Regions from separate parts of the Homo sapiens genome. Here region 1 is linked to region 2. The links come from fine-mapping of genetic effects on plasma protein levels. A gene starts in region 2. The other region holds a variant in brackets. All regions are shown on one strand. Distances are between the middles of the regions.

The links. PIP is the posterior inclusion probability: the model's chance that the variant is causal. The UK Biobank Pharma Proteomics Project read protein levels with antibody pairs (Olink). The fine-mapping took linkage between variants from a reference panel, not from the people measured, so its PIPs are less certain.
Region 1: its variant is fine-mapped to the plasma level of the HSDL2 protein (UK Biobank, PIP above 0.99).

What each region holds. Positions count from the first base shown.
Region 1 is chr9:112,431,539-112,441,679 of GRCh38, forward strand. HSDL2 (hydroxysteroid dehydrogenase like 2) reads left to right here. Exons shown (of 11, transcript NM_032303.5): 7 at 6,893-7,087. Among named protein-coding and RNA genes, the nearest start is that of KIAA1958, 50 kb to the right of the region's middle. The variant C/T (reference allele first, on the strand shown) is at 5,689.
Region 2 is chr9:112,374,313-112,384,453 of GRCh38, forward strand. HSDL2 (hydroxysteroid dehydrogenase like 2) reads left to right here and starts at 5,796. Exons shown (of 11, transcript NM_032303.5): 1 at 5,796-5,868. The coding sequence starts at 5,852. It also overlaps a transcript of PTBP3 not described here. RefSeq lists enhancers at 4,980-5,029, 5,130-5,379, 5,379-5,978, 5,410-5,529 and a silencer at 5,750-5,999.

The DNA of each region.
Region 1 (10,141 bases), 57 kb after region 2:
ACCCCCAGTGTTGGAGGTGGGGTCTGGTGGGAGGTGATTGGATCATGGGGGCAGCTTTCTCCTGAACGGTTTAGCACCATCCTCCTTGGTACTGCCCTCACCATAGTGAGTGAGTTCTCATCTCGTTTTTAAAAGTGTGTAGCACACCACCTGGCTCTCTTGTTCCTGCTTTTGCCATGTGACGTGCCTGCTCCCTCTTCACCTTCCACCGTGAGTACAAGCTCCCCAAGGCCTCCCCAGAAGCCAAGTGATGTTGGAGCCATGCTTGTACAGCATGCAGAACTGTGAGCCAGTTAAACCTCTTTTATAAATTACCCAGTCTCAGGTATTTCTTTCTTTTTTTTTTTTTTTTTTGAGACGGAGTCTTGCTCTGTTGCCCAGGCTGGACTGGAGTGCAGTGGTGCGATCTCAGCTCACTGCAACCTCCGCCTCCCAGGTTCAAGCGATTCTCCTGCCTCAGCCTCTTGAGTAGCTGGGATTACAGGCGTGCGCCACCACACCTGGCTAATTTTTTTGTATTATTAGTAGTGACGGGGTTTCACCATGTTGACCAGTCTGGTCTTGAACTCCTGACCTCAGGTGATCCACCCACCTAGGCCTCCCAAAGTGCTGGGATTACAGGTGTGAGCCACTGTGCCGAGCCTAGGTATTTCTTTATAGTAATGCGAGAACAGACTAATACAGGGAGTGATCAATTGTGTCAGATTATGCTGATAGTTCTTACAAAATGGGACTGATCGTCAGGTTTAGTAGTCTGTACATCCCCTTCACATCACTTACACCGTTTGTAATTATTAATTTATAATTATGGTTGTTCAGTGTCTTCTTTGCTAGAATGAAAACTTCTTGAGGATAGGGACAGTGTTTGCTTTGTTTGTTTTATTATAGTCATTGTAGACATTCAATAAATATTTGATGAGTGAGTAAATGAGTGAATGAATGTGCAATATGATTACCTTCTGCCTAGCTCCAAAATATATTCTGGACAAAGCTTATATAATAGGCAGAATGTTCTGTATCAGGGAATATAGAGGGCATTATCTGGTCCAGCAGGAAAAATCAGCTCATTGCTGAGATCTTTGCTTTAGCTTCAAGATATTCATTTTAGAAGGTTTACTAGACATCTTGGAGCCAGTGATGTTATTTGGTCCTAGACTTGATGACACACTAAATCCAATTTACAGTCATGTTCCTTGTGGTGCATGGTATGATGAATTATGTACTGGATGTTGTGTTTTGTTTTTGTTTTTTGAGACAGAATCTCTGTCACCCAGGCTGGAATGCAGTGGCGCCATCTCGGCTCACTGAAACCTGTGCCTCCTGAGTTCAAGTGATTATCCTGCCTCAGCCTCCTGAGTAGCTGGGACTACAGGCATGCACCACCACACCTGGCTAATTTTTGTATTTTTTTTTTTAGTAGAGACAGGGGTTTCACCACATTGGCGAGGGTGCTCTAGAACTCCTGACCTCAAGTGATCCACCCACCTCAGCCTCCCAAAGTGCTGGGATTACAGGTGTGATCCACCGTGCCTGGCCTACAGGGTGCTTTTGAGACATAGTAGCTCAGGATAAAGGATCAGAGCAGTAGATTTTCAAAAGTAGGTAAACAATTGAAATGAGATCTCAAGGGGATGTTGGAATTTTTCAAAAAGGAGAACTGGGAAAGACATTTCTTGGCAGAGGGAGCGACGCATGCAAAGATTGCAGTTTGGGAAAATACTTTCTGTGCGGTGGAACTACAAGGTTGGTGTATGTATGATAGGGTGTGGGCTTGTTATTTCCCACTGAACTTGAGCAACTCAAGTTGTACAGGTTGACTGGAATGTTGGGTGAGTTTGAGAGTGTGGGGAAGATGGATGAGATGGATGGTCTTGTCTGCCAAGTTTAGGAGCTTGAATTTTAACCTATATTCAGTGGAGAGCCACTGAAGAATCTTAGAAGCAGAGGATTAATAATAAACTGGGGAAAATAGGAGCAGTGAAGTAATATGGTTGCTGATGAGGTTTAGGAAGTTTAATCTGGCATCTGAATATGGGATGGCTTGTAAGACTGTAGAGAGAAGAGGCAGGAAAGCTAGCTAGAATATTACATTATTCATGAGTGAGGCAATGAAAATGGAGGAGTGAAAATGGATTTGAGAGGGTGTTCAGGCTCTTGGCTGTTTGAGAGGCCTCTATTTAAAAGAAAACACTCATCTCCTCATCTTAGACGACAGCGTAGAGTGACTCTCTTTATGTCAGCTGGAACCAGAAGTAATCTCCCAACATTATTGCCTTTCAAGAAAAAGGAGATTTATTGTGCTTAACGGAGTGGGTACAGTGTAACATACATTATCCTCAATCAGAGCAGTGTCCCGGTCTCCCACTTGGCTTCTCAGCTGCATGTTCTTCTCAACACTGACTTCATTGCTCCTCCTGGTTTTAGCACTTCCACCCTGCTGAATTCAGCACATCCAGAGAAAGGATCAGAGGGCCGGCCTCTAGTTGTTTCACAACATGGAATTTCAGGCTTCCAACTAGGTCACCTCCAGAATTGTAATTTTTTTCTTTTTATAAGACCTGTTTCATGGTTCTTGCTGAAATGGAGGGTGGGGAAGGGGAGAGGGATGATGGCTGCTATTCACAATGCCTACTCTTACCTCATGACTGGTCTGGGCAAGTATGGTAGAAGCAGGAAAGTCCACTTTTGGGTGGATTTGATTTGGGCTTGGGGTGGGGAGTCTGGGAATGGCAGCTACTGATTTGGTAATGGCTACAGAGAGGAAGGCAGTAGAAGTACCACAGAGCAGCTGCAGACTTCTGTCACCTGGACTATATTACAAATAGATTTGGGAACTCAGCTAACCAGGGAGGGTGAGGCGACAAGGTGGCAGCTCACCTCCTTCCTGTCTGGTGCTAGAAATCAAAACCTGTTCACTAACTAGGTTAAACAGTTTATACCATTTTCATTGATTCTGACATGCCCATGCTTTATATTTGTACATCTCTGATCTCAGTCTGTATCTTACAATGGATGATATATCATAGTTTAATTGGCAGCTTTTTTCTTTCTTTAGTGGTCCCTAAGGTAATGGTGCGCTGTATAATCAGTGGTATCATTGGTTCAGTGGATACACACATGAGTGTGTGGATATGTTTGGTGGTGGCTGACAGGTGTCAAAGAGGGGAAACAAGCTCTCTTCCCAGAGAAGGAGTCATCACAGGCAATGCTGATATTTTAAGCCTCATACACACTTCATATGTTTATGTGAAAGGAAATCTTTGGTCTTAAGACTGTTGGTACTGTCTGTTTTCAGGCAGTAATCTCTTAGCTGTTATCAGGAGAATCAATTGGAAGCTATTAGATGTCTCTTCAGTTATTTCTTAATAAGACTTAAGTTTTCAGGTCGATGTTGTTGACTCTTGTGATCCATGGCTTATCTGCTTTCATTATAAATTTTGCTTATTTTCTTTCCCAGAAATCATCAGTGAATTTCATTTGATTGATCCTACTGTTAACCTGCTTTTATTGTTACCAGTTTTTTCTAACCTATTGGGTTAGCTTGTTGGCATTGCAAAATCTGTGTTGAGAAATACTCAATGGCCCACTCCTTGAGTTTTGAGTGCCTAGTTGTACCTTCTTTGTATCTTTCCTAGAAAGATTGTTAAAGTAATGATAGGTTGGAGGAACATTTCTTATTCTATAGACACTCACACACACACACACAGCATGTATATACTTATACATGACATATTTTATTAGACTTCTAATTTAGAGTTTTTAAGGATTCTTGTACAATTCATGTAGTTTACATGGAGACTAGCAGTGTGCATGTATGCATATAGTCTCAAAATAGATTATACTCAATTATGTACAGAAAAGTTCTGCAGTTTTCGGGAGTGAGATGATAACTGAACTCCAAGAACTTTGGTTAACAAGGTTAACCATTTAGTTGCATTAAGGATGAGAGCCTGGCTCTGAAGTCAGGCTGCTGGGTGTTTGAATTTTAGCTTCTGTGACCTTGGGCAAGTTACTTAACTTCTCTGTGCTTCACTGCTCCTATTTATAAAATGGGAATAACAACAGGACCTACCTCAGGGTTCTAAGAATTAGGTAAGATAATGTATGTAAAATAGGTAACAGCATGCCTGGCACAGGGTACACTTAATGAATGGTAGGTGCTATTTTTTATTTTATTTTATTCATTTTTAATTTTTCTGTTTTTTTGACAAACAAATAGGGTCTCACTCTGTCACCCAGGCTAGAATGCAATGGCACAGTCATAGCTCACTGCAGCCTCAAATTCCTAGGCTCAAGCAATCTTCCTGCCTCAGCCTCCAGAATATCTGGGATTATAGGCTCTAGCCACAACATTCAGCTGCTATTTTTTTTTTATTATTAATAAAGGATCAGTTCAAGAGTGAGACCAGAGCTCTTGCTCTTGATCTGTTGGTTAAGGAAAAAATTATTTCTAGGGCTGGACACGGTGGCTCACACCTGTAATCCCAGCACTTTGGAAGGCCAAGGCAGGAGGACGGCTTGAGCCCACGAGTTGGAGACCAGCCTGGGAAACATAGCAGGACCCCATTTCTACCAAAAAAAAAAGCTGGATATGGTGGGAGGGTGAGGTAGGAGGATCGTTTGAGAGCCCAGGAGATCAAGGCTGCAGAGAGCCATGATCTCACCACTGCCTTTGGCCTGGGTGACAGTGTGAGACCCTATCTCAAAAAAAAAAAAAAAAAAAAAAAAATTATTCCTAGTAAATGATTTTTAGTTATGAAGTAGAAAAGTGTCTTCTAACTCAGTGCTTTCAAGAAATTCCCTAAATTAATTGAACATTAAACAAAATAGGGATGTAAGTTCCATGAAGGTAGATGCCTTATGTCTGTTTTGTCAACATCTGTGTCCTTAATATCTAGAATAGCGCCTGACTTACATATAGTAAGTGCTTAATAACTATTTGTTAAATGAATGAAAAAGGGCCAATGGCTCTTAAAAGCTACAGACATTTCATCTTATAGATGAAAATATGTAAGTTATTCTAGTATGTAATAATTTAAAATTGTATTTTAACAATATATGGAAATAAGCTTTAACTAAAATACTAGAAACTCACAAACCTAAGTACATTTAAATAAGTTGACTTTCTGTGAACCTATGAATTATGTTGGAAAGTAAATAAATAAATAAATAGACTTTTCTTGTTTGATGTAAACTAGGATATATGTAAGAAAATTGAGATGTTACTGTTGACAATGTGTAATTAATAATGTACTGTTAATTGTAGAGTTTAAAGTTACTTCACATAAGAGACATAATTTTAAAAGTACACCTAACATGGTAAAAATTTTATGCAAACATTAACAGCAGTTATCCCTGGATAGGGAAATTATAATTAATTAAGCAATTTTTTCCTTTTACTTCTCTTTCTTTTCTTTTTTTCTTTTTTTTTTTTTTTTTGAGACGGAGTCTCGCTCTGTCACCCAGGCTGGAGAACAGTGGAGTAATCTCAGCTCATTGCAACCTCTGCCTCCCAGGTTCAAGCAATTCTCCTACCTCTGCCTCCCAAGTAGCTGGGACTACAGGCGCTCGCCACCATGCTTGGCTAATTTTTGTATTTTTAGTAGAGATGGGGTTTCACCATGTTGACCAGGCTTGTCCCAAACTCCTGACCTCAAGTGATCCACCCACCTCGGCCTCCCACAGTGC[C/T]GGGATTACAGGCGTGAGCCACCGCACCTAGCTATTTTCTAATATTTTCTACAAAACAGTGTTGTGTGAATTTAAAAAGGACCCCCAGAAATCCAACCAATATTTATTGAGTGTTTTTCAAGGAACCTATTCACTGACTAGGTGAAAGAGTTTATACTACTTTCATTGATTCTGAGATGCCCATGCTTTATATTTGTACATCTCAGATACCAGTCTGTTTCTTACAATAGATGATATATCATAATTTAATTGGCAGCTTTTTTGTTTCCTTAGTGGTCCCTAAAGTAATGGTGCACTGTATAATCAGTGGTATTGTTGGTTCAGTGAATACCCACAAGAATGTGTGCATGTGTTTGGTGGTGGCTGACAGGTGTTAAAGAGGCGAAACAAGCTCTCTTCCCAGAGAAGGAGTCATCACAGGCAATGCTGATGTTTTAAGCCTCATACGCACTCCATATGTTTATGTGAAAGGAAATCTTTGGCATTAAGACTGTTGGTACTGTCTGTTTTCAGGCAGTAATCTCTTAGCTGTTATCAGGAGAATCAATTGGAAGCTATTAGAGGTCTCTTCAGTTATTCCTTAAACAGGCATGCAAATTCTTGAGCATTCTAAATCAGAAAGTTCATTGAATTTTACTTTGAGTCTTATGGTTTGGTCTGTAGTATAAGGCAGTGTTGCAGGGTAAGGAACATGTGTTTTCCACCCAGTTCTCTCCGTAGAACATTTGGTAAATCCTGGGGCCAGGCGTGGTGGCTCATGCCTGTAATCCCAGCACTTTGGGAGGCTGAGGCGGACGGATCACAAGGTCAGGAGTTCGAGACCAGCCAACATGGTGAAACCCCGTTTCTATTAAAAATACAAAAAAATTGCCAGCAGTGGTGGCGCACGCCTGTAATCCCAGCTACTCAGAAGGCTGGGTTCAATCACTTGAACCCAGGAGGCAGAGGTTGCGGTGAGCGGAGATCACGCCATTGCACCCCAGCCTGGGTGACAGTGCAAGACTGTCTCAAAAACAAAAATAAAAACAAAAAAACAAAAAAAATTTGGCAAATCCCTTAAGCAATCTGGACTTTGTTTTCATCAGCTAAGAAATGAAAGGATTAGCCTTGATAATTGTGAAGGGTGGTGCTTGCTTGTTACTTCCATAGTTTTATTATTTGATTTGGAGTTATGAGTGTATGTGTGTGTGTGTTTTCTCTACAGCCATACACACTGCTGCTATGGATATGCTGGGAGGACCTGGTATCGAAAGCCAGTGTAGAAAAGTTGATATCATTGCAGATGCAGCATATTCCATTTTCCAAAAGCCAAAAAGTTTTACTGGCAACTTTGTCATTGATGAAAATATCTTAAAAGAAGAAGGAATAGAAAATTTTGACGTTTATGCAATTAAACCAGGTAATGCTTTTATAGTTTTTAAAAGTAGTGATACGTTTTTCCATATTTTCTGCAATGAACATATCTGTTTTTTGTGTGTGTTTGTGTGATTGTAAAATGAATGTGTTCTTTTAAAAGCTGTCTTCCCAATGAAGGAAGAAAACCCATACCAACACAACTTAAAAAAAAAGATGAATGAAAAATAGAGGTGAGTTGAGGGCTTTTGAAGTGATATATATATATATATATATAAGCACAGAAAGTCAGATCAGTTACTAGCCACTTCTAAATCTCGAAATAAGAAATGAAAATTATTTTTTAAAGTTGGTCTTAAAATCACAGAGTAAAGATTTTGTTCAAGAATATGTGGTAACAGATGGTACAGTAGTGGGTTATGTATTTATTTATTTATTTGAGAAAGGGTCTCACTCTGTCACCCAGGTTGGAGTGTAGTGGCGCAATCTCAGCTCACTGCAACCTCTACCTCCCAGGCTCAAGCAATCCTTCCACCTCAGCCTCTAGAGTAGCTGGGACTATAGGCATGTGCCACCACACCTGGTTAATTTTTGTATTTGTAGATGTGGGGTTTCACCATGTTGCCCAGGCTGGTCTTGAACTCCTGAGCTCAAGTGATCTGCCTGCCTTGGCCTCCTAAAGTGTTAGGATTACAGGCGTGAGCCACTGCACCTGGCACAGTAATGAATTTTTTTGTTTAAAATAATTTATGATTGTGGACTCTCTAAATATTTGTCTCTTAAGCGCAGTCTCTTAGAGTAGCTTAATGACAGATGGTGTAGATGAGTGGGCAGGCTCTGTCTCATGGACAGTAAAGTGATCTGAGAAGCTTCTAGAAAGCCCTCTTGTTAAGTAACTCTCCCTCTCTGAAATTGGGGATGATAATGATAATAATGGATTTTTACCATATAGAATATGATGTATTCTAATATAGCCATACATAGGAGTTATATTTATTTGCGCTAAAGTATATTTTAAATATTATTCATTAAACTGAGCTTCTAAATGACACAAACCACGTTTATATTTGTATCATCCCTGCTCATCTCTGCAGTTCAAACTAAAGTAAATAGCGGATTATAGTTTTACAAAGCACTCTTATATGCATTATCTATTTAGCCTGCATAACAATTCTGTACGGAAAGTAATGCTTAGTGATTAAGAACACGAAATTTGGGAGAAGACAACCCAGCTTCATATTGCAGCTCTGCTGCTCACTGCTATGCAGCTTTGAGCATGTCACCCAGTTTGTCTGTCTCAGCCTCAATTTCCATATTGGTAAACTTAAGAGAATGATACATTTCATACAAGATTTTTGTAAAGGCTAAATGTGATAATGTATAATGTGTTTGGCACAGTGCCCAGCATATAGTACACTCAGAATATTTAGTAGTTAATATTTACAAGTGGAAAAACAGGCTCAGAGAGATTGAGCCTTTGCCTAAGAGCAGATGGCTAATAGGTGGCAGAACCTGACCAGATTCAGGTCTTCCGGGTCCTGGTACCCAGGAATATAATTATTACCTTAGGTTTTAAAGACACAGTGTAATTGTGCGCAAGTTTTAAAATTTTATTTAAATTAAAAATCCTATTAAGTATTGAGAACTTAAAATGACCAGATACTATGATATTAGGATATAACAAAGATGAATTCATTCCTGCCCTCCAGAAGTTTGCTTAAACTTCTGAAAAAGAGAGAGAGAGAGGCAGGAGACCGAGGCAGGAGGCTCATTTGAGCCCAGAAGTTTGAGACCAGCCTGGGCAAAACAGCAAGACCCCATGTCAAAAAAAAAAAGAGAGAAAAGAAAAAGAGAACAATTGAGATTGTTAACATCTCACTGTACTACAGTTTTGAAGGCTTTGTGGCCTTTAAATCTTCTAGTGTGCACATGTCTTGGAGTTATCAGTGTAATTAAAACAGTTAACCTATTTGCTAACCACAACCATTAGCTGAAAATAAGACCCAGTGGAGGCTGTGTGCAGTGGCTCACACCTGTAATCCCAGCACTTTGGGAGGCCAAGGCCAGTGGATCGCTTGAGCCAAGGAGTTCAAGACCATACTGGGCAACATGGCAAAACCCCATCTCTACAAAAAATAAAAATGAGTGTTCAGGCACGGTGGCTCACGCCCATAATCCCAGCACATTGGGAGGCTGAGGTGGGTGGATATCCTAGGTCAGGAGTTTGAGACCAGCCTGACCAATATGGTGAAACTCTATCTCTACTAAAAATATGAAAAGTAGCCAGGCATAGTGATGGGCACCTGTAATCCCAGCTACTTGGGAGGCTGAAGCAGGAGGATTGCTTGAACCTGGGAGGCAGAGGGTGCCATGAGCTGAGATCGTGCCACTGCACTCAAGCCTGGGTGACAGAGCGAGACTCCGTCTCAAAAAATAAATAAATAAATAAATAATAAATAAATAAATAAAAATTAGCTGGATATGGTGGCTTGCACCTGTGGTCCCTGTTACTTGGGAGGCTGAGGGAGGAGGATCACTTGAGCCCAGGAGGTGGAGGTTGCAGTGAGCCAAGATCATATCACTGCACTCCAGCCTGGGTGACAGTGAGACCCTGTGTCAATAATAATAATAATAACCCAGTGGAATAGGATGGAATAGGATAGCTTAGTGTTCATGATGATGGAGTGAGAGGAAGAGGGAAAGAGAGAAGAGACCCAAGTGCACTAATGCTGAGAAGAAAGTCCTTCTTAAGAAGGGGCCCTCTGCTTTTAGGACGGCAGGTAAGAAATAAGTCCTGACAACTTCGGAAGAATGTGGGCCAGAAGAGCAGTGTAGGATGAGAAGGGCAGAGGTTCCTGGGAGAGCAGGTAAAGGCTTTACAGAACAGGTGATCTTTTGGGGATTAAATCTTGAAGATAAAATTTATCAGAGGAGAGAAAGATAACTGAATTATGAGAAAATTAATTTAATGAAGATCAGGTCATTCGACAGTTCTCACAGAGGCCTTTTCTTTTGCACCAGAAAGATTTTTAATAAAATAGATATGTTTATTAAACAGATGTTAAAATCTTACTATGTTGTAGTTACATTAACCTAATGG
Region 2 (10,141 bases):
CTGGAACTAAGACCTCTAGGCCATCAGAATGTAATGTCACAGGAACAGGAAGCAAATATTTGCTAGTGGATCATTGGGCGTTACGGTAAGTAGTGCCACTTCCACTTCTACCCCTTGATTCCTGGACCCATGAATCCTGGCTATGGGAGAAACAGTACCATATATTGAACACTGATTCAGAGCATACACAACCTTCTGGAGAACTTTGCCCCAGCCCTGCAAAGTATTGTCACCTAGTTGGTGTTGTAATTGTGACATCAAAAGGCCATTCCACTGTTCTATCAATCCAGCTGCTTCAAGATGATGGGGAACATGGTAAGACCAGTGAATTCCATGAGCATGAGCCCACTGCCACACTTCTTTAGCCATAAAGTAAGTATCTTGTTCAGAGGCAATGCTGTGTGGAATACCACGACAGTGGATAAGGCATTCTGTGAGTCCATGGATGGTAGTCTTGGCAGAAGCATTGTGTACAAGATAGGCAAACCCATATCCAGAGTAAGTGTCTATTCCAGTGAGGACAAACCTCTGCCTTTTCCATGATGGAAGAGGTTCAATATAATCAACCTGCCACCAGGTAGCTGGCTTATCACCATGAGGAACTGTGCCATATTGAGGGCTCAGTGTTGGTCTCTGCTGCTGGCAAATTGGGCACTCAGCAGTGGCTGTAGCCAGGTCAGCCTTGGTGAGTGGAAGTCCCTGTTGCCCATGAATAACCTCCATCCCTGCCACCATGGCCACTTTGTTCACGGGTCCACTGGATGATGACAGGGGTGGTTGGGGAAAGAGGCTGAGTGGTGTCCACAGAACGAGTCATCCTATCCACTTGATTATTAAAATCCTCCTCTGCTAAGGTCACCCGTTGGTTAGCACTTCACAGTTTTTGAGCATTCAGAGAGGTCCATCTACATACCTCTTCCCCAAATTTTATTGTCACCAATTTTCCAATCTTGCTTCTTCCAAGTCCCTGACCATCCAGCCAAATCACTGGCTACCGCCCATGAATTAGTGTATAATCATACATCTGGCCATTTCTCCTTCCATGCAAAGTGCACATCCAGGTGCACTGCTGGAAGTTCTGCCCACTGGGAAGATTTCCCTTTATTGCTGGCCTGCAGGGATGTCCTAGAAAGGGGCTGTAGTGCTGCAGCTGTCCACTTTCAGATGATGCCTGCGTATCATGCAAAACCATCTGTGAACCGGGCCCTAGTCTTCTCTTCCTCTGTCAACTGATCATGTCAACTGATCATGATCATAGGGAACTCCCCATGAGGCCACTGGTGCAGGCTAGGGCAAAGAAGGCAGGGTGGCACGAGCGGAGACCATGAGCATTTGAGCCACTTCCTCATGTAACTTATTCCTCAGGTGCCTTCAGGACCTGCTAGAGCCCAATCATGCATATAACACTTCCACTTGATGATGGAATACTGCTGTGCACGACCCACTTTATGGCTAGATGGGTCAGAAAGCATCCAGTTCATGATAGGCAGTTCAGGTCACATGGTGACTTAATGACCCATAGTCAAACGTTCAGTTTCCACCAAAGCCCAGTAACAGGCTAAGAGCTGTCTCTCAAAAGGAGAGTAGTTATCTGCAGAAGAAGGCAGGGTCTTGCTCCAAAATCCTAGAGGCCTCCACTGTGATTCATTTATGGTGGCCTGGCAAAGGCTCCAAATAGCATCCCTATCTGCCACTCATCCCTCAAGCACTATTGGATCTGCTGGGTCATATGGCCCAAGTGGCAGAACAGCTTGCACAGCAGCCTGGACCTGTTGCAGAGCCTTCTCCTGTTCTGGACCCTACTTCTGGTACCAAAATCCGTATTAGTCAGGGTTCTCTAGAGGATATATATATATATATATATATCCTATTACTTCCTTATATACGTGTGTGTGTGTGTGTGTGTGTGTGTGTGTGTGTGTGTAGGGGAGTTTATTAAGTTTTTTTTTTTTTTTTTTTTGAGAAAGAGTCTCGGTCTGTCACCAGGCTGGAGTGCAGTGGCGTGGTCTCCGCTCACTGCAACCTCCGCCTCCCAGGTTCAAGCGATTCTCCTGCCTTAGCCTCCCGAGTAGCTGGGACTACAGGTGTGTGCTACCACGCCCAGCTACTTTTTGTATTTTTAGTAGAGATGGGGTTTCACCACGTTGGCCAGGATGGTCTCCATCTCTTGACCTTGTGATCCGCCTGCCTCGGCCTCCCAAAGTGCTGGGATTACAGGCATAAGCCACCGCGCCCAGCCTATTAAGTATTAACTCACATGATCACAAGGTCCCATAATAGGCCATCTGCAAGCTGAGGTGCAAGGAGAGCCAGTCCAAGTCCCGAAACTGAACCTGGAGTCTGATGTTGGAGGGCAAGAAGGGGATAAACGCACAGGAGAAGGATGTAGGCTGGGAGGCTAGGCCAGTCTCATCTTTTCAGGTTTTTCTGCCTGTCTTATATTCACTGGCAGCTGATTAGATGGTACCCACTCAGATTAAGGGTGGGTCTGCCCTTCCCAGCCCACTGACTCAAATGTTAATGTCCTTTGGCAATACCCTCACAGATACACCCAAGACCAATACTTTGCATCCTTCAATACCATCAAGTTGACACTCAGTATTAACCATCACAAGCCCTATGAAATAAAAAGTTTTATGACCCCTTTCTTCCCAGAATTATGAATGCCAATTTACTTGCTCTACATTTACGCAACTTCCATGACCTGGGGTAGGTAGGTATGCAATGTTGTGTTACTTCCCCATTGTCCATATCCACTTGTGTCCCTGGCCATGGCCAACTAATTTACAGGTTGAAACATTTCCCAGCACCTTGGAAGGCTGTGTGGTGGGAGGATTGCTTGAGGTGAGGAGTTCAAGACCAACCTGGGCAACATAGTGAGACCCCTGTGTCTATAAAAAGTAAAATTAGCCAGGTGTGGTGGCACATGCCCGTGGTCCTGGCTACTTGGGTGGCTGAGCCCAGGAGGTTGAGGCTACAGTGAGCCATGATCATGCTGCTACACTCCAGCCTGGGTGACAGAGCAAGATCTTATCTCAAAAAAACAAAACAAAACGAAACACATTGTACTAGACTGTCTTAGTATTTGAAGCTTGAACAGATACACAGAAAAGACAGGGAAGCCACCTACAATGCATTCTAGAAAGATCATGCTGCTGAGGATCATGGAAGCACCTTAGTTCCCATTGTCAAGCTTAGTTGTTCAGCTCTTCCTTAAGTTATATAAACTATCCCAGAATTCTTCTAAATTCTCCAACCCCTTTAATTTGGTTTAAATTAGCCAAATTACATTAATGTTGCATATAACCAAAACTTAAGGGATATAAATTGGTTGGGAGAATGTGTTGTAACCAGTAGTCTGTCAGGAAACTGTTGCATTTTTAGGTAGTTTTATCAAGCTGAGAAGGGGTGAAATGAGTGAGACTTACCTGACTTTCAAGACATCTATTTTTCAAACCATTTGTTTTCACTTCTTTACTGTGTTATCACCATCCTCCCAGGACTTTACACCAGAAATCTGAAGGTCACCACTGATACCATCTTCCCCCTTTGCTCCTACATCTAATCATTAGTTACATCTGCCAGGTTCCATATCTTGAGTATGTCTTTTCATTTCTACTATTACTGCCTTAGTTCAGGTTACTACTTTTCTTACACATTACATTACTATGGGCTTTTAAATGGCTTCTGTGCCTTTATCTACTCACAAACTATTCTTCATGCTGCAGTCAGAAGTGTTCTAAGCCAAAATTATTCACCTTCCAAAATGAAGATCTAATTATGTTCACAAGTCCTCTCCTTCACCCATTCCTCACCTCTAGCATTAATCTAACACTAGGTTAATCAAGGTAATGGGGTAGAAGGTCATGGGTAACTCCAAATCACACTTTAAATGAACTCTAGTCAAAGTACTGAATACAATGGATTTAAACTTGCTTGGTAAAACTACCTCTAATAATTTAGGAATATATTTGCCTTCTGTGAAAGCCATCGCAAAGTATAAAAATAGTGTAAGTACAGGTATTTAGGCTCACAAAATATCGTTATGACTGAAAAATTGGCAAAGGTTTTTTGTTTGCTTTGCCTCTTCGTTGAGCTCTCTTTCCGTAACAAATGGAAATAGAAGCACACAAATTCAAGAAAGGAGGCTCTAACAGACTGAAGATATTGTGGCTTTCAAAAAGGAGAGAACATTTTAGATGATATGAAGGAAATGTCACCCCGTTACTAAGAATTCACTCTATTCGACAGATATATACACGCTTCAGCAAGTGCTCCTAAGGATGAGAGGAGAGTAAGTTATTTTCATCTAACAGTCTCTATCAACACTCTTCTTAAAACACCTAATGCTTAACAACAGTCTAAAGAACACACTGGCTACTCATACCTCCCATAGGCAGAGACCTTGTCCTTTTTGAGCTGCTGTATCTCAGGTAATCAGCAATCACTTAGTGGATGATAATAATTTGCAAATTCCTCTGGAGCCTCTAAAGACCGTATCATGAATCATCAATTCAAATGCCTACAGGAGTCGGGCAGGTGATATGCAGGAGGAAATAGAGTCATTTAGGGCCCATAACAAAGGGGAGAGAGGCCGGGCGCGGAGGCTCACGCCTGTAATCCCAGCACTTTGGAAGGCCGAGGCGGGCCAATCATTTGAGGTCAGGAGCTCGAGACCAGCCAGCCCAACATGGCGAAACCCCGTCTCTACTAAAAACACAAAAAAATTAGCCAGGCGTGGTGATGCATGCCTGTAGTCCCAGCTACTCCGGAGGCTGAGGGAGGAGAATCACTTGAACCCGGGAGGCGGAGGTTACAATGAGCCGAGATCCGCGCCACTGCACTTCAGCGTGGGCGACAGCGAGACTCCGTCTCAAAAAACAAAACAAAAACAAAGGAGAGAGTACATAAGCCATCTCCAGGCTAGTTTCTTTAACTAGTCTTCATATAATAATCTCCTCAAGGTCCTGTTCTATCCCTACAAAATACAAAACAGTTCCTCGTGTCTTCCTTCAAATATACTACAGTCTTTAGCTCATCAGAGTAGCTGAGTTAGTCCAAGGCATAATCCCAAAAGCGAAACTGAATGTCAGAATTGATCTCATTTCAACACTCATTCCAGAAGTAGAAACTTCTGCAAGTTCAGCTTTTGACTATGAATTCTTCAGCGCGACTTTTGCAGAGAGCTCTGTTCCAAGAAGCTGGCGCCTTAACACAAGCTATCTACCGATGCACAAGGGAAGGCTGGCTTGGGTCCAGATTCGGCGGGAGAGTGGAAACGCGACGCTGGCCGACTTCAGCCACAAAGGCAATTTCTGCCCAGGGCTAGCGTTCCTAAGAGGGGGCCGAGAGAACGCCAGGCTCGGGCGTAGGGGCAAGAAGACCCAGAGCTAACGCACCTCTCGGAGGGCCCAAGCTCAGGGCTCAGTCACCCTCCCAGCTCGGAGCCGGCGCTGGAACACAGCGGCGCGAGGAGAAACCCCTAGAGACAGGGAAAAGGTGGACGTAGCGGCTGACGCTGCCCAGACGCTAGGCGCCGACAGGAGCCTGATTGTCACCGTACGACCAGTGAGGGGGCGGGGCGGAGCTGTGCCTCAAAGCGCCTGCGCGGAGAGCCTGCAATCAGGGACCAGGCTTGGGAGGCGACGAAGAGGAACGCTGGGCGCAGGAGGCCCACTGCATACGCAGGCGCACTCGGCGATCCCGGCTTTTCCGCGCGCAGTTCCCGCACAGGCATCGGGGGGGGCAGGGGCGGGGCAGGGGCGGGGATAAATGCGGAGGGACGGTCCAGCTTTAGCTCTCTGCTCGCCGCCGCCGCTGTCGCCGCCACCTCCTCTGATCTACGAAAGTCATGTTACCCAACACCGGGTAAGGGGGTAGGGGCGGCGCGGGGAGAGACCCTGTCGGGCGAAGGGCGCGTCTCGGTGGGGCCGCCGCGGATCGCCCGGGCTGGCCGGCCCGGCTGTGGGAGGTCAAGGATACTGCCTGGGCACGCTCTGAGCTCTGGTCCGCGCTGGGCACTGTGCACCGAGAATCTGCGGTAACGTGTGAAAAGGAACACAAACTTTTGTATTACAGGATGGCAGCAGTGTAGAAACCTTTTCCACGGGTAAAGGGCCGAGGGGGAGTCACCACGCCGCCCCCAGTGCCGGCCCTCCCTGAGTTTAGCAGGAGTGCGTGCCTGGCCGAATGCGTGTGAGTTCTAGGTGAAAGGTCGCAGGAGCAGCTCCAGAGTTTAAAGAGTTTTCACTTGTTCCTGACGCTCAATTCTAGAGTAATAATGGAGTGTTTAAAAAATGATTTCCAAATTAGAAACTAAACCGATCTTAAAACATGGGTATCTTTGGGGGATTTTTTTTTCACCTTAAAAAATTGTGTTAAAATACGTACAAAATCTGCCATCTTAACCGTTTTTTAAGTGTACACTTCAGTAGTGTTAAGTAGATTCATATCGTTGTGCAGTCAATCTCCAGAACTTTTTTCATCTGCAAGCTGAAACTCTATCCATGAAACAACTCCTCTTCCCCACCTCCGCTCGTACATTGGCAACCACCATTCTACTTTCTGGTTTATGTAAGGTCTGGGTATCTTGAGTTGAGTGACGTGTTGTCAGATTTTGTAATTTGCCTGAAACATGCAGGCATATAGCCAAAGACTTAAAACAGTTCAAAGAGTATAGGGTAAAAAGTGAGTCTCCCCATCCCTAAAATCTAGTTCCCCAGTTACTTACGTTTCTATTTCGTGCATGTATGAACATAATTTGTATACATCCGGATACACACACACACACACACACACACACACATACCCTTTCTTAAAAATAGCAGCAGACTCTATTCTTGGTCTTGCTACTTTTAGTTGGTATGTCTTGGGACATTCTTTCTTTGTTTTTTTTAAAGACGGGGTCTCCCATGTTGCCCAGACTGGCCTGTAGCCTTGAACTCCCAGGCTGATGTTCCTCCCTTCTTAGCCTCTGGAGTATTTAGGATTACAGGCATGCACCGCTGTGCCCAGGGACATACATTTTTAGTACATGGCAGATCTTCCGCCTCCTTTTTTTTTCTTTTGAGATGGAGTCTCGCTCTGTCTTCCAGTCTGGAGTGCAGTGGCATGATCTCGGCTCACTGCAGCCTCCGCCTCCCGCAATTCTCCTGCCTCAGCCTCCCGAGTAGCTGGGACTTCAGGCGCGTGCCACCACGCCCTGTTGATTTTTTTGTATTTTTAGTACAGACGGGGTTTCACCATGTTAGCCAGGATGGTCTCAATCTCATGACCTCGTGATCCGTCTGCCTCGGCCTCCCAAAGTGCTGGGATTACAGGCGTAAGCCACTGCGCCTGGCCCCTCCTCCTTTTTAATGGTTGCATAATATTCTGTAACAGCTTGAGTATCCATTATCCAAAATGCTTGGTTCCAGACGTGTTCGGATTTCAGATTTTCAGATTTGGTTTGCTCAACCTGTATATGAATATACCTTTGTTTATTTAACCTGTTCCCTATTGTTGGATACTAGACTGTTTCCAGTTTTTTGGATACTCTTTTTTTGCTTCCATAATTATACTTGTATTTATCTATTTGCACATATATAAGTGTATATGTAGGATAAACTCCTGGAAGTGAAATTGCTGGATCAAAGAGTAAATGTGGCTGGGCACAGTGGCTCACGCCTGTAGTCCCAGCACTTTGGGAGGCCGAGGCGGGCGGATCACTGGAGGTCAAGAGTTCGAGACCAGCCTGGCCAACGTGGTGAAACTCCGTCTCCACTAAAACTACAAAATTACAAAAATTACAAATACAAAAATTAGCTGGACCTGGTAGCGGGCACCTGTAATCCCAGCTACTCAGGAGGCTGAGGCAGGAGAACCGCTTGAACCTGGAGGCGGAGGTGGCAGTGAGCCGAGATCATGCCACTGCCCTGCCCTCCACCCTGCGAGAGAGAGTGAGAGTCTGTCTCAAAAAGAAAAAAGAGGAAATGCACTTTATATTTTGACAGATATTTCCAGATGACCCCCCAGAAGGGTTGCACACCCAAAAGGATAAATGAGATCCTCTAATCCCACTTGTTGGCTAACCGCAAAATAGTTAATGATGAAAATCTAATTAGAGAAAAAAGTGTCACCTCATTATTGTTAAAATTTGCATTTATTTTATCACAAGTGTGGATTTGGATCTCTTTGTGTATTTAAACCAGGGACAATTTGATCCCCAGAGGACATTTGGTAATATCTCAAGACATTTTTGATAGTCACAATTGAATGGAGATGCTAATGGCATCTCGTGAGTAGAGTACAGGGATGCTGGTGCACATCCTACAATTCACAAGCATTCCGTACAACAAAGAATTATGTAGTCCAAAAGGTCAGTAGTGCAGAGGTTGAGAAACCCTGGTTTAAAGCCATCTATGTATCTTTATATTTGTCTGGCTTAACAAATGAGGTTTTTCGTTAATCTCTGAGGGCTCTGTGTATTTTAAAAATTTGTCTTTTATCACATTACAAATATTTTCCACAGTTTTTCATGTTGCATCTGGACTTTGATTATACTGTTTATTTAACATGGAGAAACATGTTTTTGTGAAGCCAGAGTTATCAGTCTCTTAAGGCTTTTGCATTTTTGAGTTAAACCAAGATCTTTTTTTTTTTTTTTGAGATGGAGTCTTGCTCTGTAAGCCTTTGAGTTAAACCGAGATCTTTCTTTCTGTCTTTCTTTTTTTTGAGATGGAATCTTGCTCTGTATGCCTTTGAGTTAAACCGAGATCTTTCTTTCTGTCTTTCTTTTTTTGAGATGGAATCTTGCTCTGTTGCCCAGGCTTGAGTGCAGTGGTGCGATCTCGTTTCACTGCAACCTCTGCCTCCCAGGTTTAAGTGGTTCTCCTGCCTTAGCCTCACAAGTAGCTGGGATTACAGGCGCACACCACCATGCCGGCTAATTTTTGTAATTTTAGTAGAGATGGAGTTTCACCATGTTGGCCAGGCTGGTCTCAAACTCCTGACCTCAAGTAATCCTCCTGACTCGGCATCCCAACATGCTGGGATTACAGGTGTGAGCCACCGTGCCTGGGCAGATCTTTTTATAATTAGTTTTCTTCTGATATTTTTATGGTCTTATATTTTTGTATTTTTCAAATATATTTGTATTGTCTATATTTTTTATAGTCAGATTTTTTTATCCCCCTGAGATTTCTTTCAGGAAGTGAGTTAGGAAGCCCACTTGATTTTTCTTCAGATGGCTGCTCATTTGTCCTAGCAGCATTGACCTAAGAGTTAATCTTTTCTCTTCTGCTCGAAATTCTACCTCTGTTGTATATTAAATTCTTGCACATATAGCGCTCTGTTTCTGGACTTTCTGCTCTGCTACTTTAGTCTCTATTCATGTACCAGTACCAGACTGTTTACTTAATTAATTAATTGAGACAGGGCCTCGCTCTGTCACCCAGGCTGGGGTGCATTGGCACCATCATAGTTCACTGCAGCCTTGATCTCCTGGGGTTAAGCAGTCCTCCCAGCTCATCTTCCCAATTAGGTGGGACTATAGACATGCGCCATAATGCCTGGCTATTTTTAAAAAATTTTTTTGTAGAGGAGTCTCACTTTGTTGCCCAGGCTGGTCTCAAACTCCTGGGCTCAAGTGATCCTCCTGCCTCAGCCCCCGAAGTGCTAGGATTACAGATGTGAGCCACTCTACCCAGCCCAAACTATTTTAATTGCTCTAGTTTTACAAAATGTTTTAATATGTGGGAAAGCTAGTTCCCACCACATTTGGATTATTTTTCAGAATTTTCCTGGTTATACTTGGGTATTTATTTTTCCAAATGAAGTTTAGAATAATTTGTATAGTTTTTTGGAAACAGTTGTTCTTCCTTTTACTAAAAATTTCAGTACTTTTACCTGATTTTGGGGTACCAGAGAATTTTAGTAAATTAAACTGTAAGTTAGCTCTTCATCAGCAAGTTTTAGCCATCTATCAATAATACTAAGAAATTTGGAGCCTTCTTTGAAGTGCTCTTGCCTTCTATATTCTGGTACTAATGCTTTGGAGCTGGAGGACTTCTTACTGGCACAGATCAGGGTTATGTTTGCTTTTTTTTCTGCCAATGCCAGAGACTCTGAGTGAGGAAGAAAATGCCCTTTCTCCTACTGGGAA